Linked DNA regions of Homo sapiens. The protein of the gene in region 2 purifies or fractionates together with the protein of the main gene of each other region. This does not show direct contact. Each region holds a gene or a part of one and is shown on either strand. Other genes may lie near its edges. The genes, in order: PPP2R2D, PPME1, PPP4R2 and ACY1.

Region 1 (9,211 bases), on a different chromosome or scaffold from region 2:
CTTTAAGTGTCTTTTTCAATGAGTCTTGACAACCATTCGTGCTGCATTAACAGCTGCGGCCATCAGGATGCAGAACACTTCCATCAACCCAGGGAGTTCTTTCCCACTCTCTCCAGTCCATCCCCCACCCTCTCCAGTCAATCCCCACACTCGTGCCCCATGCCGTTTTTTTTGAGATGGAGTCTTGCTCTGTCACCAGGCTGGAGTGCAGTGGCGCGATCTCGGCTCACTGCAACCTCCGCCTCCCAGGTTAAAGCAATTCTCCTGCCTCAGCCTCCTGAGTAGCTGGGATTACAGGCGTGCGCCACCACACCTGGCTAATTTTTGTGTTTTTAGTAGAGATGGGGTTTCACCATGTTGGTCAGGCTGGTCTCAAACTCCTGACCTTGTGATCTGCCCACCTCGGCCTCCCAAAGTGCTGGGATTACAGGCGTGAGCCACCACGCCCAGCCCCTGTGCCATTTTTAAAATCACTGTAGAGCAGTCTCACCTGTTCTAGAACTTCAGGATTCTTCAGAGAAACCGTGTATGGAATGAGCTTTATTTTCAGGAACTCACTCACACAATTGTGGAGGCTGACAAGTTCAAAAACAGAGGGTGCACAGGGTGAGCAGGGCAGGCCGGCAGGCTAGCTCAGGCAAGGGCTGATACAGCAGCCTGGAGGCAGAATTTGTTCTCCAAGAAACCTCAGTATTTGTTCTGAAGGCCTTTGATTGATTGGATGAGGCTCACTCATATTATCAAGGGTAATCTCCTTTTCTCAAAGTCAACTGCCTGTGGGTGTTAACCACATCCACGAAACACCCTCGTGGCAATACTTGGCTTAGTTCTGATGAAATAACTACATACTATACCCTCGCTACATTGACACATGAGACTAAGTATGATAAAATAAAGGGGCGCATGCAGCTTGCACGCCTCCGTGTCTGGCTCCTTTCATTTTCGTAATATTTCGGGGACTCATTTGGGACTGCTGTTTGTATCAGTAGTAGCTCATGCCTTTTAGTTACTGAACAGTACTGCCTTCTATGATTACAATAGGCTAGATTCTAATACACACCAGGCATTTTCAATTCAGCTGTGAGATCTGAAAAACAATTTTAAAAAATAAAATTGCTGTCAATACTCAGAAACTTGTAAACACCAATTAGAATCCAAACAGAGAAATTCATTGAGCTATTAGGTTGGCGCAAAAGTCATTGTGGTTTAGCCAAATATTTTAAGTTTTTAGCATCATAAGAAGAATAGTTAAAAATCTCTTTTTAAAAAATAGTTAAAAATCTCTTGCTGGTCAGCTGATGCACAGTGGGACGCAGGGAAGGCAGCCCCCCAGTCTCAGGAATATGTTACTTTTGTGGCTATATCTTGTTTTTAGTTTAATTTAATGGGAGCTAATGAACCAGAAAATACATTCTAAACAAAAACTAATTATCTTGTCATCACTTCAAAAGACATATTTAACACACATTAAAGCAGTTACATAGGAACTAAGAATAAAATCCTACATCCCCCACTGGCTGAACGAACACCCCTGTGGCCAGGGGGGGCCCCAGGAAAACCTCAACACTGAGGCTATAATGGGGGATGGGAGGTCAGACAGGCCTCCTGATACCCCCGCCCTTTTGTGGTTTGGACACAACAGACCAGCGTTAACGTTAAACTAGAGACCATAAGACTGACAGAACGGACTCTGTGGCAGTAAGATGCCAAATCATAAACAGGGCCTAAGGCCGTGCGGGGGGAGGGTGAAGCCACGCACCGCACACTTACAGAGAAAACGTCGTTCCCACTGCTGTTGGGTTTTCCTTCCCTCCAGCAGCTAAATAAGCACTGGCCTTGATAGGAGCAACATTAAGCAACTGCAGCTCCACCAGCCACTAAGTGACCCCCAGCCCTGCTCCAGCAGCCGTAACTACAGCTTTCATTGGACAGAAGACTGTAACTGTCTCCTGATAAGAAACCACCGACCTTGGACTGGTTCTGGCCGGTTTACAGAGGTTGCACATCTGCATGCCTTCCTGTCCTGAAAAGACCTCTTGAGGTACAGGGCCTAGTCCTAATTTACTTATTTATTTATTTATTTATTTATTTAGAGACGGAGTCTCGCTCTGTCGCCCAGGCTGGAGTGTAACGGCACGATCTCGGCTCACTGCAACCTCTGCTTCCCAGGTTGGAGGGATTCTCCTGTCTCAGCCTCCCAAGTAGCTAGGACTACAGACATACGGGCGCCACCACGCCCAGCTAATTTTTGTATTTTTAGTAGACAGGGGGTTTCGCCATGTTAGCCAGGCTGATCTCGAACTCCTGACCTCAGGTAACCTGCCAGACTTGGCCTCCCAAAGTGCTGGGATTACAGTCGTAATATATTCAAATGTTTAGTCTCCCCGACAGAGTGAGATTGGGTCCTATGTTACATAATACACGTGTCAGGAGCCCCTTCCTGAGTATTCATAGCTCCTCCCAAAGCCTGTTGTCTATGTATGTTTAGCCAACCCGTTCAGCATAGAGCTCCTGCCCCAACTCCTCCTCCTACGAAGAGCCATCTCCCATCTTGGCCTGGGGGATGGCCACCTTGCTGGCTGTAACCATTTATAAGAAATAAAGTTCCTCTTTTTCTAAATTTATAAATTGTCAGGTTTTTAAGTTAACAAATAAAAGAGATCTGGTCATTAATTCAGGTTTTCAAGTGTCTTCCTGGGCAGATAGGCTAAATCTACATTTTAAAAACAAGATTACAGCCCCATTTTTCTGCTCTTCTTCTCCTCAACAGAGAAGTAGGTATTCACTGCCTCTAGTTCCTCTCCTGCCACTGTCCCCAGAGCCCTCTGCAAACTTGTGATCTGAGTCCATTCCATAGCCACCGCTCCGTCCAAGTCAGTAATGGCCTCCCAGTCCCTACAACCAAATGGTCACTCCTGTATACTCATCACATAGCATCACAGAGCAGCCACTCCCTCCTGTCTTCAGTGGATCCTGGAGATGGGTTCTCCAGGAGCCCACCTCGCAGGCTGCTCACTCATCCTCCACGTCCTCACCCCTTCAGGGCTCTGTCCTTGGTCCTGTCCCCCATCTGTCCTCCCTCCTGAGGTGACCTCACCCAGTTTCCTGACTTGAAATGACCTCTAAATGCTCTCACCTTGATGCTCTGGCTCTGACTTCCCTGTGTGCTCCCAGCCTGTCTGTGCAACAGCACTATGTGTTGACAGCGAACCTCTGGTCGGGCTGCACCGCCCCCACCCAGCTGTGCCTTCTGCTGCAGAAACTCCATCCTTCCAGGTGCTCAGACCACCCGAGAGCAGGCATTCCTAAGTCCCTGCTTTCTCTCACACCGCATCTTTTCCATCAGCAAATCCCAGGGGCTCTGCTGTCGAAGCACTTTTCTCTGAAATCTGACTGGTTCTCACCACCCCACCCCATGTTCACCACTCTATCCTCATCCCCATGCCTGGTCAGCCCAGCTGGCCACCTGATTGGTCTCCCTGCTTCCCCTCTTTGGGTCCCCACAAGCTATTCTCAGCAGAGCATCCAAAAGCCCAAGTCCATCACGATCGTCTTCTGTTCATGAGCCCATCTCATTCAGAGTCCAAGTCCCCTAAATGGCCTGCCCACTGTCCATCCTCCTCCACTTACCTCCCTGCCTTGACTCCAACCCCTGGCCTCCCCTCCACTCACTCTGCACCCACGCAGCTTCTGGCTGCCTCCTGCCCATGCCAGGCATGGCCCTCCTTCCTGTCCTGGCACTTGGTGGTCTCCCCTTCCTGGCCAAGCTTTCCTAGACGTCTGCATGGTTTGCTCTTTATCCTTGAGTCTTCTCCAGTCACCCCGTGCAAGACTCCAACTCTCCCCATACACATTTCCTTCTTCCCTGATTTTTCTCTCCAGCTCCGACTTATTATGTATTTATTTCCTTATTGTCTGTCTCCCCCACTGAAAGGTAAGCTCTACCAGGGCTGAGATTTCTCTGCTCTGTTAACCTCTCACCCCCAGGGCTGTGGAGTGTGCCGCACGTGGCAGGAGCTGTCAATAAATAATATTAATGGAGTGGACGAATGTTCCTGATTTGCAGCGACTGTCTTTTAGTGGTGCAATACCATCAGTGCCCACCGCAGCTACCCTGAAAGAAGTTCTGATTCCGGACATCAATCCCATAGGGACAGTCCCCCTGATGATAGCTCGACTTCAGATTTTTCAACTTTACGACGGGTAGATTGGGTATTAGATGCATTTTTGACTTAGGAAGGGCTTATTTGCGGGGAGGGTAGCCCCACTGTAAGTCGAGGAGCACCCATGATCGCTCAGTATGCCAGAGAAAACCACCCGCAAATGAAACGATCGGCCCTGTTTCCCTAAGACTGCACTGGGAGCTCCAAGAACCCCTAAGGTAGCCATCTGGTGAGCAACGGTGCGCTCCGAAAGGGAGGTGGACAGGATTGGGAGACCGAGGCCGGCAGATGGCTCGAGCCCAGGAGTTCGAGACCAGCCTGAGCAACATAGACCCCCGTCTCTACAAAAAATTTAAAAATCAGCGAGCCTGGCGGCGCGTGCCTGTGCTCGCAGCTACTTCCGAGGCTGAAGCAGTAGGATGGATTGAGCCCAGGAGGTCGAGGCTTTTAGGGAGTCGAGATCGCGCCCCCGCACTCCAGCCCGGGGAACAGAGCGAGACTCCGCGTCGGGGGCAGTGGGCGGGAGGCAGCGCTCAGGTACGGCGCGCTCAGGTGAGGCCGGCCCACATGCCCGCCCACCGCCGCCAAGCGCGTCCTCCATTGGCGGTTCCACGGAGAACCCACGTTTCCATTGGCCGATGCGGGATGGGGGCGTGTCCGGCCAAGCGGCGCCCTGAAGGCGTGTCCGGCCGCAGCTTAGGCTCTCCGGGAGTCCCCGGAGAGTAGGGGCGGCCGGCGGCGCTAGTCTTCTGGGGAGCGCCGGGTGCACACCGGACCACTGCGGGAGGCCTAGGGCCGAGGGCCGAGGAGCTGGCCTGCGCCCGGCGACCCCGGCTTCCCTCCGCAGTCGCCCAGGCGTCCCTTCCCCCCTACAGCCGAGCGGCGCCGGGCGCAGGCGCATTGGGCGCCCCCGGCAGCCCCCGCGGCCCGCCCCGTCCGCTGCCCGTCCGAGGAGGCGGAGGGCGATGACGTCATCGAGCGGGGCGACGGGCATTGGGCGCCATTTTGAAAAGGGAAAAAAATCCCTCCCCGGCGGCGGCGGCGGCGGCGGCGGCGCCGGCGGTGGTGGCGGCCCCGGGGCTGAGCGCTCGGCTGCAGCGGCGCGGAGGCCGTCTCCCTGGTCTGCCGCGGTCCCCGCCCGTCCCGCCGCCGGCTGCCATGGCAGGTGAGGGGTCTGCGCGGGCCGGCGGGGACCACGGGGGCGGGCGGGGGCCGCGGCCGGCCTGACCGCCCCGTTGTGTTTGCAGGAGCCGGAGGCGGCGGCTGCCCCGCGGGCGGCAACGACTTCCAGTGGTGCTTCTCGCAGGTCAAGGGGGCCATCGACGAGGACGTGGCCGAAGGTGAGCCCCGCGCCGCGCCCCGCCCCGGGACCCTCGCGGACAGCTCCCAGCCCGGCCGCGCGCGGCCTCCGGGCCCCAAGCGTCCGTGGAAGGCAGGCAGGAGGATGGGGGCCGGGCGGGGCAGGGGCCAGGGGCCGAGCTGGGGGCCGTGATCGGGGGGCGGCCGTCCTCTGTCCGCTGTCCCGGCCCGCGGGGCACGGGCGGAGGCGTCGGGCCCGCGGCGGGACTTATGTAAGTCACCAAGGTCACGGGCGGCCGGGTCCTCCGAACCCAGCGCCTGGGGCTGCCTCCTGCCCGGGGCGGAACCGAAGCCCGGGGCTGCCTCCTGCCTGGGGCGGAACTGAGGAGACCGCGGCGGAGCCGGGGACGGGAACGGAGTCCATATCGTGCGCTCGGGCAGCGCGGCACAATGGCCCAGAGGCTGGGAACGCGCCTAGGGCTGGGTCGGGGCCTCGGCCCCCACCAGGCTCTGCGTTTCATCGGCGGTGCGCTCTTGAGCGAGCTGGTTGCCTCGGCTCCCTGATTCTTAAGGTCTGCTTTCTGCGGTTCTAAAATCCTTGAATTTTACTGTGAGGTACTGCTACTTTCTCTACTGATATATTTTAAGGTCTCTATTCCAGATTTTAGTCTTGAACTTCATGGTATTACTTGAAGTTCACTGGTCTTTTCCTTAAATCATACTCTCAAATTGGCCCAGGCACAAAGTTTTAGGGTGGTGGGAGGGAACTGGGAAGTGCCTCCCACCCCAGCTTCCCATGAAGCTTACCTGTCACCTTAAAGTTAAAAAGCTATGTAGCTTTCCTTTTTCACCGTTGAATGGAGAACTTGGTCGAGTCTTAGAAGTTTGATTAATATTTCAGATTCAGAGTCATAGTGACTTTTTTGTTGTTGTTCATACATCTTACTGAACATTGTAAACCTTTAACCTTTTCTTAAAAATGATTGGTGTTTGCACCAAATACACCTTCCCTGCCTCAAGTTACTAAAAGCCCCTTGTCAGACGTCCTGTTCACTTCCCTCCATCTCGGCCCCCCCAACCCCGTGAACTTTTACTCCCTCTTCCCTACCCTGTACCTCTCCCTGGCAGTGTCTGGTTTGGCACATGACCCCTGAGGACATCTGGAGATTCTGCGCCCCCTGGGACAAACAGGGCCTAGGTTATTAAGCAGGTGAAACTGGGCTCTAAGAAATGCGTAATATATATGGTTTGAGATTAAAACTAGGTGCATTTTATGTGATCTAAAAAGTTTATTGATTTTATTTCTTTAAAATGCATTACTTTTTTTGTTTGATTTTGCATATGCTAAGCAAGTGACAGTTCAGCCTTACTCAAGTGTGATTTCTGTCGCAAGTAAAGCAAAACTTGTTTGGGAGTAGGAAAGTGAGAGGGCTTAATGCTTGCCTTAATTTCTGTTAACTCTTTATTTTGTTTTTTGGAGACAGGGTCTCACTTTGTAGCCCAGGCTGGATGGAGTGCAGTGGTGCGATCTGGGCTCACTGCAACCTCTGCCTCCTAGGCTCAAGCGATTCGCCCACCTCAGTCTCTGAAGTAGCTAGGACCACACACACGCGTGCACCACCACACCAGGCTAATTTTTGTATTGTTGTAGGGGATTTCGCCATGTTGCCCAGGCTGGTCTTGAACTCCTGGGCTCAAGTGGTCTGCCCACGTCAGTCTCCCAAGGTGCTGAGATTATAGGCGTGAGCCACCGCACCTGCCTGGTTTCTTTACTTAAAAAAAAAAAAATTATTGATAAGCTGAATGAATTAAAATTTAAGTATAACTAAGGTAGTATATTTTAAATGTGACTGTACACATATGAAAATAGTATTCTTTCTTTAAAAAAAATCTTGGGCCGGGTGTTGTGGCTCATGCCTATAATTCCAGCACTTTGGGAGGCCAAGGTGGACAGATCACTTGAGGTCAGGAGTTTGAGACCAGCCTGGCCAACACAGTGAAACCCCGTCTCTGCTAAAAATACAGAAGTTAGCCGGGCGTGGTGGCACATGCATGTAATCCCAGCTACCTGGGAGGCTGAGGCAGGAGAATCACTTGAACCCGGGTGGTGGAGGTTGCAGTGAGTGGAGATCGTGCCATTGCCCTCCAGCCTGGACAATAGAACAAGGCTCCATCTCAAAAAAAAAAAAAAAAAAAAAAAATCTTGACAAATACTTTGTTCTCTGAATTAAACTGATGGGAACTTTTTGCAGTTTTAAATCCCTATTTTAAGTTAAATTTTGAGTAAATCCAAAAGTTTGGTATTTCGAGTTGTCGTGGTTTCTTTTGTAACATTGCTTTGTGGTAATTATCTGCATGTGTTTTGGTTATTCTGTGTATTCAGAGCTGTCTATTTTAATCCATGTATGCTTTGGCCATAGTAACCCATCCAGATTAACACATTTATAAGTCACCATCGATTTGTCCCATAGTTGTGATACCGTTGCTTTGTATTAACACCAGAGAGTCAGTGATGATGAAGGGAAGTGTAGTCGTTAGTCACCAGGGATTGCTGAGCAGCAAGGATCAAGAAGCTGGTCATGCCCAAACGCAACCTTGAGGGAGAGATGTTGGTGAGAGATAAGAGATGGGTGGCTGGGTACGGTGACTCACACCTGTAACCCCAGCACTCTGGGAGGCTGAGGCGGGTGGATCACTTGAGGTCAGGAGTTTGAGACTAGCCTGGCCAATATGGCGAAACCCCATCTCTACTAAAAATACAAAAATTAGCCAGGCGTGGCAGGGCCGGCCTGTAATTCCAGCTCCTCAGGAGACTGAGACAGGAGGATTGCTTAAACCTGGGAGGTGGAGGTTGCAGTGAGGCGAGATGGTGCCATTGCACTCCAGCCTGGGCGTCAGAGCGAGACTCCGTCTCAAAAAAAAAAAAAAAAGGAGAGAGATGGCCGGGCGCAGTGGCTCACGCTTGTAATCCCAGCACTTTGGGAGGCCGAGGCAGGCAGATCACAAGGTCAGGAGATCGAGACCATCCTGGCTAACACGGTGAAACCCCGTCTCTACTAAAAATACAAAAATTAGCCGGGTGTGATGGCGGGCGCCTGCAGTCCCAGCTACTTGGGAGGCTGAGGCAGGAGAATGGCATGAACCCGGGAGGCAGAGCTTGCAGTGAGCCGAGATCGTGCCACTGCACTCCAGCCTGGGCGACAGAGCAAGACTTTGTCTCAAAAAAAAAAAGAGAGATGGGCAGTTCACAGGGGTTTTTATCGTGCACTGCTGCTCAGGCTGTAGAACTTAAGGTATAGCAGATTTTGTTTGTTTAGATTTGTGGCTTGTGAGGCATTTTGTTCTTGAAGGTTTTGTTCTGGGCCAAGTTCAGCTCTGTAGAGCTTTACTACAGCCCTGCACTCTGGCCGTCTTTCTGCCCTCTCTGCAATGGGTAAGGAGAAGGAGCCTTAGAGATTAAGGCCTGGGTCCTCTCCTGACTTCAGTGGGGTGATGCCCAGTGCACAGGAAGTGGTGCAGGGCTAGGAGTAGGCACTCCTGACTTTGGAGGTCATGAAGTGAGTGACATAGAAAAGCCTTTGGTTTTTGTTTTGATTTCTGTTTTGTTTTTAAAACTAATAGTTTTGGGCTGGGGAATCAGAATCAACCTATGGTGAAAGTGCTGGCCTATGTAAAATTTGATGCGCACCCCACCCCCCTTTTTTTTTTAAAAGAATTGGGTTTAGCTATGGGTCAGGTCATTTTGCTAA
Region 2 (6,230 bases):
CTTTGTCTTCAGTCCTCCCAGTCTCAAGATTCTGTCCCCCATCAGATCTACATCTGCCTCCAAAATGTGCCTACCTTCCTTTTTTGGGAAGGAGTTTCCCTTGGACTTTCACTAGTGTCTATGTGACAGGGCCTTTGGTTTGTCCCAAACATGCTCCTTCTGGCTTTGTGGCAATCCTTCATTCAAGGATTCTGGGATCTCCTTCTTTATTCCCTTCCTGAGTTCATACATGCTGATCTGTAGGCTCTGCAAGGACACTGTTATGGCCAACACATAGTAGGTGCTCGTTAAAGCCATGTTAAGTGAACACATGAATGGTCCCTTCTCTTCTGGGGTGTAATGGAATGCTCAGTAGACTTGGAATCAGAAGACAAAGATGCTGCCACTCTGGCCGTGGCTGTGGGCAAGCCATTTCAAATGTCTGAGCTTTTGCTTCCTTGCCTTTAAATTGGGGATAGTGCCTGTACTTCACAAGGATACAAAGGATGAATGGAGATGAAAGTGCCTAAAACACAACCAACCACAAAGCTCACGAGCATTTCATTCATTCTCAGCCTCCTCCATCAAGTGTAAAGAGGGTTCATCTCCACGGTCATCCTCCTTCTGCTCTTTTAAGTATCTGGTCCAAAATGACTTCTGCCCAGGGTCCCTTGTAGCATGCAGGAACAGAATGATGTGGAAGCAAGCCAGTTTTGAATTCTGACAGTCACTTCCAAGCTGTAGAATTTGGACCTGTCTGCCTACCTGTAAAAGGAACATAACAGCACCTACCTCATAGAGTTGCTGTGAAGATTAAATGAGATGTGTGTCAAGTGAATTAGATGACATTCAAAATTTGAGTGAACCTGATGAACCTGAGTGCCCCTGAAAACCAAGTGATCATGCTGCCCTCTTGTGGACAAGAGGGCACATAGCTCAGCAAAGGCACCCGCAAAGTGTTCCGGTGAGAGAAATCAAACCACACATAAGGAACTTCTCTCCTCTACTAGGGAGCTCATGAACTACCCTGAAATATTTCATCATCAACTAGACAAGAAATTTTCAGACATTGATGCACTTGTTAAAATGCAGATCAGTTCTGATTCAATAGGTCTGACATGGGGACACAGTTCTCTAACGAGCTTCCAAGAGATACTGATGCTATTGGCCCACAGACGGCCCTGAATAAAGTTCCTAACTATAACAATGTAACAGTGTCATAACAGGAACTACTTATTAAATGTCTTACCATGTGCCAGTTAGTGAGAAAGCCAGTTAACCTAGTTTAACTTGTATAATCCTCAAGACCCTGTGGGGTAGGTACGGTTTATCTCCATTTTTCAGATGAGTGAACTACAGCAGAGAGAAAGTTTGTTGCCATACCATACAGTGTAAGGGGTGGGGCTTGGGTTCTAATTTAGACACTCTGGCCCCAGAGCCTGCTAGGAGGAAGCCTCCAACAGTGTGGAGGACCACCCAGGGGGGAGGAGGGCAGCAAAGGTACTGAAGTGATCAAAGTGAGAGATGATGAGGCCTAAGCTAGGGCACTGGCTGTGGGATGGAAAAGAGGGGGACACGGAAAAGAGGATGAACAGGATTTGGTGGTAGACCTGAGGTGGGTGTAAGAGAAGTCATTCACTGTGGGTATCTGGTTTGGACAACTGGAGAGATGGTGATACCTATCACTTATTGAGCCAGGAAACGCTGGAGGAAGAGCAAGTTTCATGGGGAGCAAGTTTCCGGGGGAAGGTGGATTCAGCTTTAGAAACAGTCAATATGAAGTGGCTTTTGGTCATCTGGGAGAGACAGGAGGAGGAACCTGGGCCTACCTGTTCAGAGCTCAGGAAATGATTTGGGTTGTAGATGAAGTTTCACATAAGTGAAGCTATGGTGACTGAGATCATGTGGACAGTGCACAGATTGTCCTGCTCTGGACCAAAGTCGACACAGCCGATAATTAGGAGAGATGGGACTGGAATCCCATCCTGGCTGCAGAGGAGGGTGGCTCTGACCATCCCACTGGGCATTCTGGATCAGGGGACAGGCAGAGCATAACACACTGAAGGGCTATAGGGAAAGGGGTTTCTGGAGTTCCATGACAACTAAGTCCAATGAGCTGTCCCCTGCCCCCATATCAGCAGAAATAAGGACAATTCCACAGAGAAAGACCAGACCAATAAAGGTTGGGAGATATTTATTTTCTTTAAACAAGGTCATAAATAACAAAAAACAAAGTAGGTCCCAGACTCCGGACCATGCAGCAGGACAGGGGTGGGAGGTTGTTGAGTGGAAAGGTGGAGGGGGCTACACATCACCTAAGACAGTCACAGAAAAGATGGGCTTCAGGACACTGCCCCTTCCTGCCCTTGGAAATGGCGTGCCTGGGCAATAGGGACAGGCCACAGTGCTGTGTCGAGGCAGCTGGAAGAAGGCAAAGACTGGGGATGCCAGGCTGTAATGTTTCTGTGTGGAGTGATGTGAAATCCACAAATGGCAAAGAGAAGCTGTAGGTTTGAAGAGGCAAGGGGGCACTGCACACCTCCAGGAACCAGTTATGAAAATGGTTAAATTTGATGATTAAAAACAATTCCATAGGCTTTGGCCTGTGGCTTTGTGCATGGGCTGTATTTAACCTGGGTTGCTCTGTGGCAGGTGAGGGCGCAGGAGGCCCCTGGAGCAGCCTGGCCTCAGCCCAGGGCAGGTGCCCAGACATGTGGGAGTGGGACAGTGGGCTCTCCCAGATGGGAGGCCATGTGCTTGGACCGGCTGGACCTGATTTTCAGGCTCGTTTCTTGTGATGCTATCCACCACCACCGCTCGCTATGGCTAAGGATGGGATCTTGGCCTCTCTGGGTCTTCCAAACCTGGAAGAGTACGACTGGGATAAAACGGTACCTGACTAGTGTTTTATTTGAAAGGGAAAAATAAAGACCACCCCATGCATTGTCCATCCCATGAGGCAGGGCTGGGCCATGCCAAGACAATCTCAAGGAATGGAGGTCCCTGAGCCTGGGAAGACATTTGAACTCAGATGTATCGCCTGATGCTAGGAAGAGGGGCTCAGTATGGCAAATCTGGAGGCTTTACCCTAGGCAACGCAGGGAGAGCAGGCAGGAGCTACCCCAGTACAGGGAAGGGAAAGGAGCAGGGGAGCCCTGGACTGGGGAAGCCGATGTTGGTCAAGGGCCCTGGAAAACAATGCTTTTGGCAGAATACATGAAAAGGTTGGTACATCTCGGGGTGCCCGTCTACCGGGAGCCAGTGTCACATGGCTGGGCGGGATGGAGAGGAGACAGTGGCATCACAGTGGCCTCTGGTGCGACGTATTTACAACAGAGCTCGATGTTGAGGAGGGGTGGACAGCAGGTCACTAACAGCCAGGAAACACACTGTGGAAGAACAGAAAGAGAAGGAAAAACAAATGTAACTATCAATAGCTTTCCCTTGCTTATCTGTATCCTCCAGGAAGCCCTCCCTAATGACCACCAAGGCCCTGGCAAATCTGACCCATTTCACAGCCCTGACCAGAGCTGGACCCAGGGTCTGCTCTCAGTGTGCTGCTCATTTGCCCAAGGCTCCAAATGGTCGAAGGGCCCCAGCCAAACACTGTTTAGTAAGAGAAATTAAGTCTTTATTGTTGGTTCCTGGGATCCATGAATGGTCAGTTGTTAGAGGGATGGCTCAGCATAGGGGTGTCGCTTCTGTGGTTCACTGTCCCAAGGTCTTGCCATCATCTCCAGTGCTTACCCTGCCCTGTCACTCTCATCTCCCAGGCCCTGGAATTCAGAGTTCTCTAACGCAGAAGCCATTTCCTTTTCTTAATATTTCTTCTGCAAACTTTCTGAGAGTGGGGAACAAGTTTCCCCAAGCCCTCACCAAAATCAGAGAAGAGACTTTTCAATGGTAGGAATGACTCCTCATGAGGGTTGTGGGCTCTCTGAGGATCAAAGGCCTTCTGCAGTACAGACTAGGAGCTGGCTGAGGTGGGTCAATACCACCTGGTTTGGTCAACATGCCTCTCTTCTTCCTCAACAAAGAGCCCAACTGTGTTTCCCTAAACAGATGAAGAGCTACCTAGGATGAGAGACCTGGCCCTGTTTCTTCCTCTAGACCAATAGAGGGGGAATTTTTGCCTCCCTTGAGGCATTTGGTAAAATCTGGAGACATTTCTGTTTGTCAAAACCGTGTGTGGGAGGGGTACTACTGTTATCAGGTGGGTAAAAGCCAGGGATACTGCTAAGCATCCTACAATGCACAGGACAGTCCCCACAATGAAGAATTATCCACCTCAAAATGTCAATAAAGCTGAGGTTGAAAACCCTGCTCTAGAGCTTCCAGGATCACCCCTGCAGAGTGGCTAATATTCTGCCAGCTTCGGAAAGGGAGGGGAAGCAAGCCTGGCAGAGGCACCCATTCCATTCCCAGCTTGCTTAGTAGCTGGCCATGGGAAGACACTGTGCAACACTGTAGAAAACCCTGCTCTAGGCCAGGCGCGGTGGCTTGTGCCTATAATCCCTATAATCCCAACACTTTAGGAGGCCGATGCGGGTGGATCACTTGAGGCCAGGAGTTCAAGACCAGCCTGGCCAACATGGAGAAACCACCATCTTTACTAAAAAAAAAAAAAAACAAAAAAAAAAACAAAATTAGCCGGGTACGGTGGCGTACGCCTGTGATCCCAGCTACTCGGGAGACTGAGGCACTGGATCACTTGAGCCCAGGTGGCAGAGGTTGCAGTGAACCAAGACTGTGCCAAGAAAAAAAAAAAAAAAAAAAAGCCCTGCTCCATGGCCTGCCCAGCTTTCCTTGGCAGCAGGGCAGGAGAAGCCAAAGAAAACTTCTCTAGGAGCCTGGAAAAGGACTGATTCCTATCCCAGCCTCCTCAAAGGGGCACCTCAAGAAGAAATGCACATCACAGTGGGGAGTGAGACTAGGCACAATTTAATCACAGCCTCAGCATCAACCCGTGGGAGCACAGCACAAAGAAACAACCAACCATGGCTTTGTAGAAACAGACATGCCAGGCTCTTCACTGAGGAGGAGGAAGAAAGGCATGGTGACCAAACCAGGCAGGGGTAAGGCAGAGATATTTACAGTCCTACAAGTGTCTGCTTGTCAGATTCGGCCAGCACTGCTGGGTTCTTAAACCCTTGTACCCGCCTTACCACTGGAATCCACCGATGGGTTCTGCAAACCTGTGCCGGATCAGGAAAGTGGCAACAGCTTCAGCTACCTGGAAATGGGAGAGATATTCCAGGCCATATAAAGGTTAGTGATGGGGCTTAGCCTTGGGCTGTGAGCTACTGTTAGATGGTTAGGCTCTACGGTGCCCTCATCCCACCCACAGGTCTGAGTGGCTTGAAATTAAAAGGACCTAGGCCCTCCCTAGCAGAGCTAGAAGACTCCTCCCCACTATCCTTGCCAGGGATAGCTCCATAGAGCTCAAGAGGAATGACGTGAAGGGCTTATGTGTGCCCTCAGAGTTACAGAATGGTGTTTTCTCACAGGAGGAGCCCATATTAATTCCTAACTGTGCCTGTGGTTTAGGGAGCAGTTTCTACCCTAATCATCCCTCTTCCATCTCTGGCTTTTGGGGGTATTGGAGAAGTAGAGCTTAAGATCTTAACCACAGGGCCCTGGGATGAAATAGCAGAGTGTCAGTAGCTCCTCAGCACATATACACAAAACCAATACCATAAGCAGCTGCCAGGGAGAAGTTGGAGAGCTGGTGGAACTGCATCTGCATAGGCTCCACAGCAGCTGCTGCAGGCAATGCAGGCTGAGACTCAGAGACTTGTCTTCTGTGACATCCAGGGTTATTCTCACAGTTGTCCTTTTACAGTCACTGAGCACCAGACTCACCTTGTCAGGGGCATCCTCATGGACTGCATGGCCACACTGGGGTAGGACCTGCATCTGGAACTTCCCTGGAGAGGAATCAAAGCAAGGCAACTTCAGCGACTAAAAGAGCCCTCTCTTATGCAGCCTCATAGGTCATTCCAGGAGCCCAGGACCTACCTCCCCATTTCCAACCTCACCTCAATACTCTGGACCCAATTATCAAGTCTTGCTGAGGATGGTAATACAAGTAATTGTAACCTTGCGCCAATCATTTCCCTTCACTTTTTCCTTCTGTCCTATTTAGTGTACATTTACTGTGGGCCAGAGACACATAGAAGAAACAGTTCTTGTCCTCAGGGGATTTACAGTCCAGTAGGGGAGTAAAACACAAAAACCAACATTTTAATGCA
Region 3 (9,203 bases), on a different chromosome or scaffold from region 2:
AGCTCAAGACCATGGGTTGGAGAATTAATGTTCACACTTCTATTTGGAGACTTTGAATCCCCTCTACACAAGCTACGCAAGTCAAGTTAGTTGCCAAGAAAGCACAGATGACAACCTATTAATGCTGTGAGAATGTTTCTAGATCAGTGCATGGATGGCTCCATTGCTCTACGGGCCATTGTGTCTGAGATCCCAGTCTTTGAGGAGAAAAAAAACAATGGTTAAAAAGGCATTGGGGAAATATTTTGAGTTTGGGGGTGTACTTTGCCACCCCATTATTGGGGAGCTGTCACCACGAATGTTCCCAAACTTAGCAACAGCGGCAAACTACTGGGCCAAGATGAGCAACCCCACATTTTTGGGATTTAAAGCTCCTGATGTTATACCAGGATCAACCATCACACTCCCTTTGCTTCAAATGGCATCTACCCCGTAAGATCTTGAGGGGGGAGTGTTGGGTGGAATCATAGATCCATGCACTCCTAACATGAACTAATTCTCATTATTTAAAAAAAAAAAAAAAAAAAAAAGTCCAGGTGTGGTGGCTTAACGCCTGTAATCCCAGCACTTTGGGAGGCCGAGGTGGGCCGATCACTTGAGGTCATGAGTTTGAGGCTAGCCTGGCCAACATGGCAAAACCCCGTCTCTACTAAAAATAAAAAAAATAGCTGCGCATGGCATCACACGTCTGTCATCCCAGCTACTTGGGAGGCTGAGGCATAAGAATTGCTTGAACCTGGGAAGTGGAGGTTGCAGTGAGCTGAGATTGCACCACTGCACTCCATTCCACCTTGGGTGACAGAGCCAGACTCCATCTAAAAAAAAATTAAGTCATCCACAAGTGTATTTTCTTTTCTTATAGGAAAAACAATTCCAATAGTTTAAATCGAATGAATGGTGTTATGTTTCCTGGAAATTCACCAAGCTATACTGAGAGGTGAGATTCTAGATTTTTAATACCTACAGAGTTTGCATTGTCCTGATTTTGAGTAGCAGGCTTAGTGTACTTTTTAAAAATTGGGCATTTTATGGACACCATAGGATGAACTACATAGAATTAGTTAATTTGGTAAGGCATGGGCCTGAAAACAAAGTTGCAGCAAATACTTCTGTGATGTATTCACATCAACATACCTTAAGAGGGATGACTTTTTATAAAAATAGGAAATGATGTTCATTTATCTTATTATAGGTCTAATATAAATGGGCCTGGGACACCCAGGCCACTTAATCGACCAAAGGTTTCTTTGTCAGCCCCCATGACAACAAATGGGTTGCCTGAGAGCACAGACAGCAAAGAGGCAAATTTGCAGCAAAATGAGGAGAAAAATCACAGGTTTGTATGTTTTATATTTAAAAACAGTGTTTTTATTAAAAGTTAAAGTTAACATTTAATCAGTACTTATCACTTACTATTTATAAGTTCTGAGGGACAGAACAAGGTTTTCATGCGGTTTATAGGAGCACTGGCTTCTCTTTGCAGCTGTAGCAAATGTTGAAGGTGGACATAGACAAGACTTAAAACTGCTAATTTGTGGAGACTGTTTATGTAGGGTCTAAAAGTAACGTAGATATGATGATCCATTTCATTTGTTGTTTCTGAAAGTTACTTGAAAAGAAATGATCTTTATAAATAAGTTGATTTTTGTGAGTCGTTTCTCATTGTAGTTCATAAAAGGACACCTTTTGTTTATATCTTCAAATTTTCTGTATCACATTAAGGGAAGGAAGACTAAATGAGGGAGAGGACTTAAGAGAGTATGTCCGTATGGAAGACTTGCGGGTTTATTGTAGGAGAATATTTAACTTACTGGAGAATTGCACAGAAAGGTCATATAGCTTTTCTGAGTCCTACTGGGAATTATTCATCAAACAGTTTAGTTTACCTTGAAATTATTCTCTTGTGTTTTTCTTTGTTCAGGTGTTATAATTTAACTTTGACACTGAAATACAATTTAAAACATTATTTAACCTTAAAAATGGGGATGTAGAAGATGGGGAAAATAATCTTATTAATGACACTTTAAAAAAACATTTACAGTGACTCTTCGACCTCTGAATCAGAAGTTTCCTCAGTGAGCCCTTTGAAAAATAAACATCCAGATGAAGATGCTGTGGAAGCTGAGGGGCATGAGGTAAAAAGACTCAGGTTTGACAAAGAAGGTGAAGTCAGAGAAACAGCCAGTCAAACGACTTCCAGCGAAATTTCTTCAGTTATGGTAGGAGAAACAGAAGCATCATCTTCATCTCAGGATAAAGACAAAGATAGCCGTTGTACCCGGCAGCACTGTACAGAAGAGGATGAAGAAGAGGATGAAGAGGAAGAAGAAGGTATTTAGAGACCATCTGTAAAAGGGTGGAGTAAGGAGATCCTCAAATTCTTGTACTTCATTTTTTTCGTGAAAGAATTTTACGTAATGGAACTCCTTATAATGCTGATGTTGGGCTTTTCTCCCACCTGTATGTAGTTGCTGCTGAATTTCAGGGGATGTGATTTGAACTATAGAATATCAGAATTCATGAAACTTAACTGTGGAGGTATTTTGAAAATACAATTTAACTACAACAACATTTGCTTATTTTTAGAGTCTTTTATGACATCAAGAGAAATGATCCCAGAAAGAAAAAATCAAGAAAAAGAATCTGATGATGCCTTAACTGTGAATGAAGAGACTTCTGAGGAAAATAATCAAATGGAGGAATCTGATGTGTCTCAAGCTGAGAAAGATTTGCTACATTCTGAAGGTAGTGAAAACGAAGGCCCTGTAAGTAGTAGTTCTTCTGACTGCCGTGAAACAGAAGAATTAGTAGGATCCAATTCCAGTAAAACTGGAGAGATTCTTTCAGAATCATCCATGGAAAATGATGACGAAGCCACAGAAGTCACCGATGAACCAATGGAACAAGACTAACTATTTAGAAACATTTAGATGCAGTATTTTACATACAGTTCTGGTTTTAACACTGTATAAAACTTTTGTGTAATAAAATGGACCTTTAGTTTTACAAGAGAAGCAGGTTGTAAAATAAAGTACTTTATGGATAATTCCTGAAAGAGTTGTACATGTAAGAACTGTGAATATCAGCTCCTCTGGGTCCTGCTTACCTTACCGCTGACTTTTCTTTCTTTCTTTTTTTGGTCTGGGCAAATCAGTGGTTTGTGTATAGATTTTTTTTTTTTTTTAATTTAGGATTGAAGTTTTTAAACTGGAAAGTAATTACAATTTTGAAAAGTTTTTTGAGATTATCACATTTAGTTTATACATATGCAAGAAGCTTTTTGTCTTGTCTCTTTCTGATAGCTCTAGCAGTTTTCATATTTTGGTCATAGTTTCAACATTTTAACATGTGAATTATAGGGTTTCATGCTGGTTTCCAGATTTTATTGTTTGGCTACGTACAATGGAACTTTAAGTCATATATACATACATATATATATATATATATATATAATTCTAAGGGGGGAAATGTTATATTTTTCTGTTTCTATAAGAGATGAATACAGTGGATACTTTTTCTATTGGTAATGATTGAGTTCACCTCTTTCAGAAGACATTTTCTTTCTCTTCTGAGTAATTGAAATAAAATCTGGCCCTTGTGAAACCCTGGAAATCTTAAGTCTGTTGAAATACCAGGTTAAACACATTCCAAGAGATCTGTTCAAACTCAAATTCTTTTGTATACTTCTGAGGTGCCTGAGAAAAAGACTTCATTATTTATGAGAAAATATGCTTTATCTTGGAAATTGTGTTCAAATGTTAGCTTACTATTTTGTAGAATGAATGTTTATGAAGCTGATATGAGACCATCTCAGAAGAACCAAGTAGGTTCCTTGACCTTTTGCTTGCTTTTCTGAACATTGTGAATATTACACATGTCTTTCTAAATTATTCTAGGGTATGCAAATGTCAATGGTATGAAACACCACTGTACTGGAAGAATTAATATATTACTTTAGTATGTACCTGAGCTAAATGACTGAAGCTTTAGGGGTGCATAGAAACCACCATAATTTGTATGACATTTTGAAGTGAATTAAATATTTTTGAACATGCTTCTTCGACAGCCAGTGTTATATTTTTCAGATCAACACAAAGCACAATGATTACTCGAAATTCAGTATTTTCAAATTTACATATTTAAAGTCATGCAAGCTGTAACTTCCCTGTCAAAATTACTGGCTGCCAAATTTATACCTGTTTCTTCAGCTGTACCTTTTGATATTTAAAGTTTTTAAATTTCTGTAAAGTAGATTTTGTAGAATGTAATGTGTTCACTGCCTTTGTGAAGCGGTATATAATTGTATAATTTCTGTGTGTAAACTGAATGCTTGGGCTTTCAATACAGTATTCATATAAAGCAATAAATATTAATGTTATGAAATATTTGACTACATTTTTATCAAAATATGAAAGAATCCCCCCTTTTTTAGTTTCAGATACCTGAACTACACAGATGAGCTTCTAAAACTGATGCAAACAGTTTCTGACACTGTATAATATGCTTTTGGGTGATTTGGGGGGCAACCACAAGTTTTGCGTTTTGACTACTTAAATCATCATGGCTATAAATACCAAAACGATTTGGATCCATTTATGTTTGTAGGATAATATACTACTGACTGACTTGACTGTCAGGTTCACAACAGCTAGATGATATATTTATGACTATGTCTAATAGTTGAAATAAAATCTGAATATTGATTTACTATACCCAAGAGGGGAGAAAAATTAACCATTGTAAATTTTTAAAAAATTTTTCAAAAATGTTAAAATGAGGCAAATTTAAGTTTACAAATTTTGAAATTTTCTTTTGAATATTTATGAAATTGTCAGTAAACTTACCTAAGATCCTGTGACCTTTTGATATTTTTTATTTTAATTGTAGTGCCATGGACCATTTGTAAACAAATTGATTTACTTTTGTTGGTTGTAAGTTGAAGATTTAGCATTATGACTTTGAGGTCTGTGGTTTTATTTGTAAACTTGCAATTGCTATATTTGCAAGGGCAAATGTATTTCTTTATTAAATAAAGTACAATAATGGTGAATGTACCAAAATGACATCACTTAACTCTATGAGAGATCTGCATTTTAATCTATAGTTTAATAGTTTTAATATTTATTAGATATTCATATGTTGATCATAGATCAAACTTGTTGCTGTTTATACAGATAATTGTAGAATGCTCATGGAATATCTTTAGGGTAGGTGGAATACTTCTGTAGTTAAATTGGGAAACCTTGTTCAGCTGGTTTTAGATATTGATGGCCATTTGGAAGTAAATTTCCGCAGGTATTCATAGGTGCACTTAACACAGACTTTGCTTAATGAAAATGTCAGTTCTAATAGTAACTGATTCACTTCTGAACAGAAGTGATTTTAGGCATATTTCTTAACATATATCAAGCAAAGTCCTGTTAAAAGATCTAAATGAAGAATGGAGACCTCAGTGATTAAAGATATTTTGTTTCTGACCTTGAGCAGATTGCTTACCTGTTCTCTAGACTATAACCCAACATGTAAAAAAAATTTGAAGATGGTGATGAGGAAAGTGAGATATATATATATATATGTATTATGTTTCTAGCACTTTTCCCTTTTAAAAAGTGAAAATATCCTTGTACATTTTTGAAAAATATATTTTCAGTTCTGAAAAATGTAGCAGAAGTAGTGAAAATGTCATATTTTAAATGTTGATTATTAGATAAATTTAACCTGCTTAGGGTTTATTGTAACTACACCTTTCAGACGTGTGTTTTGGAGTAGTGGAATTGCCAGCCAGGCCCTGTGGCTTGGAAAGGCATCCCAGAAATCCTCGGCCAGAAGGTGTGGCTTGTTAAAGCATTGAGATTCAGAGTATTTTGTTTTGCCGGTGTAGATAGGCATGTATTTATGCATTTTTGCATTTGTAAAATCAACTTTTCAAATAATGTAAATGTAATATACTAGTTTACTTAAAGGTACTTGGGCAGAATCTAAAGCTGCTACAATGTTTGATTATGAAAAAAATGTAACATGGTAAGGATGAAAATGCAACTTACAAAACCAAAGGAATTAAAAATTTTCGGTAGTGTTTCAAATTGTCTTCTGAACAGGAATTTAACATTGGTTTTGATGAAGGTGAGGGTCAGTTCTCAAGATTTGTGCTAATCATAAAATGAATGAATGCAAAACACCTTGTAATTTCATATGGAATTATAAAAATTAGGTTTGCTGGGTTTTGGCCTAATAAGAGTGCTAGTATGTATTGGTTAGACTACATCTTACTATTTCACATTTTAAAAATCAGTACACTCTTCAGGATTTTCTTTTATTTCAACTTGGAGCCTAGATTACTTTGCCAAATGTATTATTTTCATAATGCAATAAAATATAAATTAGAATATTTCTATGTGTGTAATTATTTTATGTGCCATAATGGTTTATTTGCCCTGCTGCCACTCCGACTCCCCCCCAACCCCCCCAACCCCCCCCGACCCTGCGCCACCACCCACCTCAAATCCTTAACTGAGGAAACTCAATGTGTGACTTTGTTACAGCCCTGTTTCTTACATGGTGACAAAGTGTTCCAGCAGGACTTGACAGTTGTGGTTCTTTGCCAGGCAAGTCATGCTGATTGTCAACAAAATCCAGATTTAAATAAGTCTCCACTGGTATAATTTGGCACTAGCTTACATGTATATATTTACAATATTTGTGTTAATCATTTTAAAGGCTGGGCGCAGTGGCTCACGCCTGTAATCCCAGCACTTGAGGCCAAGGCAGGTAGATCTCTTGAGGCCAGAAGTTCGAGACCAGCCTGGCCAACATGATGAAACCCCGTCTCTACTAAAAATAACAAAAATTAGCCAGGTGTGGTGGTGGGCACCTGTAATCCCGGCTACTCAGGAGGCTGAGGCAGGAGAATTGCTTGAACCTGGGAGGCAGAGGTTGCAGTGAGCCGAGATCACACCACTGCACTCCAGCCTGGGCGACAGATCGAGAGTCCGTCTTTAAAAATAAAAAAAATCATTTTTGAAATCCCACCTTCAGGCAACTACATGGTAAGAAGTGTAGAATTACCTGAAGTGGAGAGGAGGGTTCTGTTTTCAACTGTGGGTCTCCTTTCCTATGCTTCTTTTTGTTTTTGTTTTTGGGACGGAATCTTCCTCCGTTGCCCAGGCTGGAGTGCAGTGGTATGATCTCGGTCTCGGCTCACTGGAACCTCTGCCTCCCGGGTTCAAACAATTCTCCTGCCTCAGCCTCCTGAGTAGCTAGGACTACAGGCATGCACCACCATGCCCGTCTCATTTTTGTATATATATGTTTTTCGTAGAGATGGGGTTTCACAGTGTTGGCCAGGGTGGTCTTGAACTCCTGACATCAGGTGATCTGCCCGCCTCAGCCTCCCACAGTGCTGGGATTACAGACATGAGCCACCATGACTGGCCCTCTAGGCATATTATCGCACAGTAGCTACAGTAGAGGGTAAGATCTGTGGCTCTGAACTAAGGAGAGTACTAGTCGGTGTGTTTCTAACCTTAAGAATGTCTTAGTTTTCAGCTTCTCATATTTGATCTCTTACCCCCACTTAATTTTGTTTACTAAATAGTATAACTAGTACGTAGTTCAGGGCTAATGATGGGAAGACTGATTTTTCCACTGGCTAGGAATAAACTGCGTGAACTCTTCCCTATTTAAAATGAAGAGTATGCAATTCCCTTTTATTCTTCAGAACGTTTTAAGTTTAAACTTTAGCAGTAGTTTGTCATCTTTAGGTTTTGTTTGTACATTTTCAGAGTTTTTCTTCCCATAACTAAAAGTAATGAATATTCCAAAATGCCAGCAATTCCCTGTATACTAGTCTGCCATCTCCACTGTTTTACTCATCTTTGTAACCTCACAGGCTAGCCCCATGCTTGACAAGTGATAACAAAATTGAAAGCAAGTGGTAGGTCCACAGCCCACTTTAGATTCCTATGTTTTACCGATTCTGTGTCTACTTTGCCCACTTCAAGTGTGCTAAGGTCACCCCTGCAACTTTGCTACTAGGTTTGTGGGATTGGGAGCAGTACATTCTGTTGAATGCCCTTGCCAGGAAATCAGTGGGCAGTTGGATGGTATCACCAGAAAGTGAGCATCTTAACAAAGGAAATTTCCGTGAATGAGACCAGCTACCCCCTGCCTATAGAAAGCACAATAGCACACCCGCCTCTTACAGGGGATAGGTGCTGCTACAGGAGGATATATCATTAAATTACCCAAGTCCTGCTTTAGACATGGTATAATGGGACTTGATATTCAGTAATACTTGCAGCAAGAAATTTTTGCAGTTGAGTAGGCTTGTGAGACTTTTGATGCTGCCTATAATCGCTGAGAATTTGAAAGATAAATATGGGTTCAGTATTCTGTCTTCATTTTGGATGATAACTGTTTTTCTTTGCATTTCATGCAATGCTACAGAGTGGAAGGGTAAGCTTAGTTGGTGACTAACAATTCCCATGTGTATTTAAGAATGCATGCAGTTTCCCACTTTCAACCTGAAAACGTTACTTGATTGGAATTCAGAATACAGTTTCTCATGTAAATTATTTAAAATGTGGCTAACTTTGAGGCTATTATACAAGAAGCTGTTTAGGCCTTAATGTTGAGTGTATTACTGTGGTTAAATGTAGCAATTGTAACATTTCTATTGAAATATGTGGGTCAGTTTCCACTGTGGGTTTGTCGAAAATGCCTCTCCCACAGCTTTGGCAGTGCAAGTAAAGACTGAAGGTGGAAGTGTGTTAAGATCCAGCAGCTCGCCAAATATGTCAGTTATTTTAAAGTCAGGGATTTAGCATAAACTAAATATATCTCAATATTGGGTGATTCAAACTGCAATAGAATTTGCAGTGTCTTGGGATCATTATGATGGTGGTGTTTTGAATATTAGAAGTGTATCCAGATATAGGAGGTAGGGAATATTTTCCAGTATATTTCATAAGTTCCCTCTAAAAAACAACAGCACAGAAAGATTTCCAGGTGTTTTGAGTATTCATTTGGAATTTCATGAAATGATGACTATCAGATTTCACTTATCCCAACAAAGGGAGTTAAGAAGAGGTAGACAAAACATACAGATGGAGAAAAGCATGTCTGTTGTTAGGTAGCAACTTTCATGAATTGTGTATTTGGGGGGCTAAAAAGAGTAGATTTAGTCCAATTTCATATTTGAGGAA
Region 4 (5,478 bases), on a different chromosome or scaffold from region 2:
GCACGCTGTCACCTCTCACCAGCACTTTGGGAGGCCGAGGCAGGCGGATCCCCTGAGGTCAAGAGATCGAAATCATCCTGTTCAACGTGGTGAAACCGTCTCTACTAAAAATACAAAAATTAGCCGGCCGTGGTGGCACGCGCATGTAGTCCCAGCTACTTGGGAGGCTGAGGCAGGAGAATCCCTTGAACCTGGGAGGCGGAGGTGAAACCCCGTCTCTACTAAAAATACAAAAAGCTGGGCGTGGTGGCGGGGGCCTGTAGTCCCAACTACTCAGGAAACTGAGGCAGGAGAATGGCGTGAACCCAGGAAGCGGAGTTTGCAGTGAGCCGAGATCGCGCCACTGCACGCCAGCCTGGGCGACAGAGAAAGACTCCATCTCAAAAAAAAAAAAAAAAAAAAAAAAGCCAGTCAAGTCCTGGCTCCTTGTCAACTGTGAGCAGGAGTGATTGTTATTTCTATTAGTACTAAGCCTGCAGCCCAGAGCCAGGCTCTGGACTTCTGGCTACAACTAGAAACTTAAAAAATCCAACTATCCCACCCCAGCCCTGTCTCTCCTGCCCCATGCTCAGGGAAGTCAGAACAGGATAGAGCAGATCTGGCTAGATCAGGCTCTGCTACTGGGGCCATAGTTTACTCTTGGTACTACCTGGGGGTCCTAGCAAGGCTGAGATGAAAGCCCAGTTCCTGGGCCTCTGCACACACAGATCCAGGGTGCTGAGGCCTCTAAGATGAACTGACCTAGTCTACCAGGGACCCTGCCCCTCTGTGGCCCCTGCTGCCAACACAAGGGTGTACAGGTTTTGACAGGAGCCAGCAGTCACCGTTGGCCCTCTGCCTGCCCCTCATCTAGCAGGGGCCCAGCTGGTGCTATTCTGGTACTGTCTCAGGATCCCAGATGTACACCCAGGAAGATGGGAGTGGTTCCTGAGGTCCTTAGTATCCCTCTTTAATGGGAATGGAATCCCTGATAGGTCAGAACTAAGTATGGTGGCCACTCAAATAGGAACTGTGGCCCTTTCTTGCTAGGCACAGACATGGCTGGATGGTACTGAATGGGTGTGCTGTGTCAAGGGGCACAGAGCAGTGTGGGGTAGTGGGGAAGTGCTAACAGCCAGGCTCAGTTTCCTCATCTGTGAAATGGAGATGGTAACATGTCCCCAGGAAAAGGAAAATTCTTGCTCCACGAGTGTCCTTGTGTTAGTACTTCAGAGACAGCCCTGTCCATAGACTTTATTATTTGGAAGGGGGAAGAGGAGGTCCTTGGCACTGGTTGGGATGGAAGCCCCAGGGGCAAAGGTTTAGGAGTTCCAGGGCTCAGCTGTCACTGGGCAGGGCAGGCACACTGGCAAGGGCAGGCAGCAGGCGTGTATATATGTCCACCCCACGGAGGAACACAGCCTCATGCAGCCGTTCATCGTGGTCGTGCAGCAGCACAGGTGTGCGGTTCATGGGTGAGAAGCCTAGAGCTGGGACCCCCACCTGCAGGGGTGAGGAAGAGCCGTTAGGGAAAAGCCAGCACTCAGGCCCAGTCCACTGCCCAGGCACTATATGCAAGTGGCTCACCGCGCGGATATAGCGGTTGTCAGTGGCAGCAGGCATGATCTCAGGCTCCAGAGTGAGGTTCCTGTAGGAGAAAGAGCCTGATGAATGGGGAGGGAGAAAGCGAAGAATTGAAGGGGCAAAGGAAGGTGGGAAAGAGGTGGGAGAAGGAGGGAGAAGGGAGGGGGCAGCAGGAAGGAGAGGAGTAGGGGGCTGGGCTGTGAGGAGAGCTGGCCAGCGTGCTCACATATCCTTGCAGACCCGGCTAAAAGCTGCCCACCAAGGGTTTGAGTCATCAGTAGGTGTCACTTGGGGGTGCATCCACTTCTGAGGGACAGGAAGAATGGCAGGATCAGGACATGGGCCTGGGCATCTTGCCCTATTTCCCATAGAGTGGGCTGTGCCTAGTACATAACACCTCCCCACCCCCACTCCTTCACCTACCCAGACATCTGGGTAGCCAGTCCAGCCACAGGTCCTCTTTCAGCCCCTCAAATGTCCTAGGTCTGGGACCTTCCCACCCTCCGTCTACTTACCTCCTGTCCATCCTTCAGATCCTAGCCCAAGTGCCCCTTCCTCAAGATGGCTCCCCCAGACCTCTCAGACTAGTTGGATACTCCAGTTACAGGTTTTCAGAGTGCAAGGGGCCACCCTTTCCTGTACCACATGGGTTATATGAAAGTACGGCTGGGCGCAGTGGCTCATGCCTGTAATCCCAGCATTTTGCGAGGCCAAGGTGGGTGGATCACTTGAGGCCAGGAGTTCGAGACAAGCCTGGCCAACATGGTGAAACACTGTCTCTACTAAAAATGCAAAAATTAGCTGGGCGTGGTGGCAGGTGCCTGTAATCCCAACTACTCTGGAGGCTGAGGCACAAGAATTGCTTGAACCCGGGAGGCGGAGGTGAGCCGAGATTGTGCCACTGCACTGCAGCCTGGGTGACGGAGTGAGATTCTCTCAGAAAAAAGTAATATCACATAAATGTTTGATTTATATCTCCCCGTTTCACCATACAAGGGCATGAACTGTGCCTAATTTTACTCCCCACAGCATTCCCCAGCACCCACAGTGGCCTCTACAATGAATGCTTGTTGGAATAAAATGTGTCTGTCACAGATAAAGAAATGCCCAGACATATGCAGACACACCAAGCACACACTCCACTGTTGCACACTTGGGTCTCCCCCGGCTCCCACACTCTCCCATCACATGTCCCAAGTCCATACCTGAGCAAACTCTAGGGTGACCCCCTCGCCAGCTGCCTGGCACCAGCTCTGCAGCTGCTCCTCAAAAGCCTAAGAGAAGGGAGACGAGCTGATCCTTCAGGCTTTCCAGAGGCCTCTAGGACAAGACTGAGGACCCAGGATCCCTCCTCCAAACCCAGGTGGAGGTGGCACCTTGAAGTCCACATCCGGTGCCACACGGAAGTCAAAGCTGGCGCTCATGGTGGCAGGTATCACGTTATAGGCCACGCCACCCTCTAGCTTAGTCAGGTTCACGGAGGTCACGGACCCCTCTTTCAGGTGGGGGTTTGACTGCAGCCTGTGGTGTGGGGGCAGGGTAGCGGCAGCAACAGATAAAAGAGGTGGCTCAGACTCTATCCTCTGTGGTACCGCCTCCCAGAGCCACCCCACTGCCTCCCAGGCTGCCTCACCTCTGCCATTCCTTCTCCCGGAATGCCAGGATGGAGTTTACAACCTTGTGCTATGAGAATATGAGGTTAAATGGGACAGTGGCCTCAGGATAGAGCCTCCTGAACTCCCAGACTCCCTCCTGGGGTGCCACGTACCAGCTTCTCTGCTGCTGTGTCCTCCATGAAGCGTGAGGCATGGCCTGGCCTCCCAGTGCTGGTAACCCGCACCCCTGGGGAGGTGTAGGGGGAAGGCAGTGTCTTCAGCCTGAGGGGCTGGAGACACAATCAGCCTGGGGTGGGCCCAGGTCTCCCCCTCATTCCAGGCTCCTCTGGCAGGGTCCTGTCCCCACTCAGGGCCCGTAGCATACAGCTGGTTTCTGCCCATTCAGGGCTTGCCCTCAGAGAAGCTCAGATAGGAAAGAGCTGGGAGGTAGAGGCCCTGGGTTCAAGGCCTTCTCAGGCCTCAACTTTGCTGTGCAACCCTGCATAGGACCGTGCCCTTTCTGGCCTAGCCTCCCGCCTGTAGAGTGAGCCCTCCCTCCAAGCTCATACTTACACCAGGGACTCCGCTCACTATAAAAGACAGTGAAGGCATCAGTGGGATTGGCTATGCCTGAGGAGGGAAAGGGGGTTCAGAGGGTGGAGCAGCTCAGTCCCCACTAGCAGCCTCCTACTCCCTGCCTGGCTGCTCATTGGCTTGCCAACCTGCTCACCCTCATCCAGGGCAAAGCCTGCCCTCAGGGCGTGGAACTCAGGCCGCTGCACGAACAGCTCCATGCCTTGGTGACCCCCAACCTCCTCATCTGTAAAAGCAGCAGGGACGTGAGATGAGGAGGCTGCCCCGCCCCACCCTCCCCTTTCCCAAAGGTATCTGAGCCACTCCTACCAGGCACAAAGGTCATGTGGATGGTTCTGGGGAACCGGTGGCCCTCCACCTTCAGCCTCCTCACAGCTTCCAGGTACCTGAGGGGGCATAAGCCAGGTGCTGGGGGAGCCACCAGATGCGCAGGCTGGCCCCACAGGCAGGGCCAGCAGGCTGGAGTCCTGTGTCCTGGACTTTACCCTGCCACACCCTGATAGGGACTCCAGAAAGTCCCTGCCCCTCTCTGGTCTGAATCTCCCTATCCATGCAATGGTCATGGCAGTAGTTCCTGTCCAAGAGGTCACGGTGTTCCTTGGCCTTGAGTTTCTCCAATCACCCCCTCAGGTCCTGCTTCAATCCACTGGACCAGTGGGGACATTGTGGAGGAGTAGGAATGGAGGACACTCACTGGATGCTGACGCACTTCATGTCCTGGGCACCCCTGGCATAGATGTAGCCCTCAGAATCCTTGAAGGCCTCAAAGGGGTCGTGACTCCAATGTTCCTGGGGGCAGGGATGGGAAGAGGGGCCCAAACCCCAAATTTAGCCATTAATCCACTCTGGTCAACAGTGGCCCTGCCCTAGGAGCCCACCATAGGGTTGGAGTGACAGGTGGAGTGGTGGGAGAGGAAAGACGGGGGCTGAAGAAGGCAGCTGATTGCCATCCCCCATTGCTGTCTCCTGCTTCCCACCCCCCAGTCCCCACCCCACTCTGGCCCAGAACTTGCTGCTGGATGAAGGCTGCTTGAGTGGTGTAATGTCATAAGGATGTTGAGAGTTAGTGTCAGGACTGGGGCCAGGACCATGAGCAACTTGAGGTTGAATCCTGGGGTCTGCATCATGTCTGTCCCCAAGGCCTGCACTGCCCACCTCCCCAGCCCCTTACACACCTTGAAGACAGGCACCACATCCGTGTGGGAGTTGAGCAAGATGGAGGAGAGTGTAGGGTTGGTGCCTGGCCAGGTCAACACGGTCACCACATAGCCAGGTGCCACCTGGAGATGGTCAGGAGGGTAGGTGGTCTGAGCAGGGTGAGGAAGTGCCCAGGCCCACCTCCCTTCCCCGCTTAGGGCCCCAGGCTCACCTCTACTTTCTGACAGCCCAGGCCCAGCTGGCGGGCTGTCTCCTCAAAGAAAGCCACAGCAGCTCCTGGAGGCACAGAGTGTCTTGGGGCTGCTTCTGCCTACCCACAGCTTCCCACCAGCCCAGGCAGCCCGGAGAGTGGAGCATACCCAGAAATGGGCTGCTGCCTCCCCGACACACTCCATATCCCTCAGAGATGCTTGCATTTCCATCCCCAAGAAAGAAGATATTTTTGGCTACTCAGTGACCCTTTCTGGAAGTCCAGGGGGATGTCTGGACACAGGGTTGGAGGAAGGTGTTATCTTCCTTAAATATGGGAAACTATGGCACAGAGACATGAAGAGATTCACCCACCATC

The links.
Region 1: the proteins of PPME1 (region 2) and PPP2R2D purify together in Homo sapiens (affinity purification with mass spectrometry; 6 studies listed by BioGRID and IntAct, with this or other methods). This does not show direct contact.
Region 3: the proteins of PPME1 (region 2) and PPP4R2 purify together in Homo sapiens (affinity purification with mass spectrometry; 5 studies listed by BioGRID and IntAct, with this or other methods). This does not show direct contact.
Region 4: the proteins of PPME1 (region 2) and ACY1 purify together in Homo sapiens (affinity purification with mass spectrometry; 4 studies listed by BioGRID and IntAct, with this or other methods). This does not show direct contact.

What each region holds. Positions count from the first base shown.
Region 1 is NC_000010.11:131,895,828-131,905,038, forward strand, and holds the start of PPP2R2D (serine/threonine-protein phosphatase 2A 55 kDa regulatory subunit B delta isoform), read left to right. Parts: upstream 1-5,180; 5' UTR 5,181-5,321; coding exon 5,322-5,328; intron 5,329-5,410; coding exon 5,411-5,503; intron 5,504-9,211. UniProt on the Homo sapiens protein: Substrate-recognition subunit of protein phosphatase 2A (PP2A) that plays a key role in cell cycle by controlling mitosis entry and exit. Involved in chromosome clustering during late mitosis by mediating dephosphorylation of MKI67.
Region 2 is NC_000011.10:74,250,630-74,256,859, reverse strand, and holds the end of PPME1 (protein phosphatase methylesterase 1), read right to left. Parts: intron 5,907-6,230; coding exon 5,842-5,906; coding exon of another isoform or gene 5,602-5,841; exon of another isoform or gene 5,230-5,601; intron 5,213-5,229; coding exon 5,145-5,212; intron 4,447-5,144; exon of another isoform or gene 4,308-4,446; intron 3,369-4,307; coding exon 3,350-3,368; 3' UTR 2,157-3,349; downstream 1-2,156. UniProt on the Homo sapiens protein: Demethylates proteins that have been reversibly carboxymethylated. Demethylates PPP2CB (in vitro) and PPP2CA. Binding to PPP2CA displaces the manganese ion and inactivates the enzyme.
Region 3 is NC_000003.12:73,062,811-73,072,013, forward strand, and holds the end of PPP4R2 (serine/threonine-protein phosphatase 4 regulatory subunit 2), read left to right. Parts: coding exon of another isoform or gene 1-90; exon of another isoform or gene 91-527; intron 528-862; coding exon 863-937; intron 938-1,192; coding exon 1,193-1,336; intron 1,337-2,041; coding exon 2,042-2,331; intron 2,332-2,586; coding exon 2,587-2,912; 3' UTR 2,913-6,388; downstream 6,389-9,203. Other genes in the region: EBLN2 (endogenous Bornavirus-like nucleoprotein 2), read left to right, coding at 1-90. UniProt on the Homo sapiens protein: Regulatory subunit of serine/threonine-protein phosphatase 4 (PP4). May regulate the activity of PPP4C at centrosomal microtubule organizing centers.
Region 4 is NC_000003.12:51,984,915-51,990,392, reverse strand, and holds the end of ACY1 (aminoacylase-1), read right to left. Parts: intron 5,187-5,478; coding exon 5,122-5,186; intron 5,033-5,121; coding exon 4,928-5,032; intron 4,542-4,927; coding exon 4,447-4,541; intron 4,139-4,446; coding exon 4,062-4,138; intron 3,979-4,061; coding exon 3,889-3,978; intron 3,789-3,888; coding exon 3,732-3,788; intron 3,406-3,731; coding exon 3,332-3,405; intron 3,247-3,331; coding exon 3,197-3,246; intron 3,085-3,196; coding exon 2,940-3,084; intron 2,838-2,939; coding exon 2,769-2,837; intron 1,870-2,768; coding exon 1,790-1,869; intron 1,628-1,789; coding exon 1,567-1,627; intron 1,483-1,566; coding exon 1,318-1,482; 3' UTR 1,196-1,317; downstream 1-1,195. Other genes in the region: ABHD14A-ACY1 readthrough (NMD candidate), read right to left, coding at 1,318-1,482, 1,567-1,627, 1,790-1,869, 2,769-2,837, 2,940-3,084, 3,197-3,246, 3,332-3,405, 3,732-3,788 and 5 more. UniProt on the Homo sapiens protein: Catalyzes the hydrolysis of N-acetylated amino acids to acetate and free amino acids.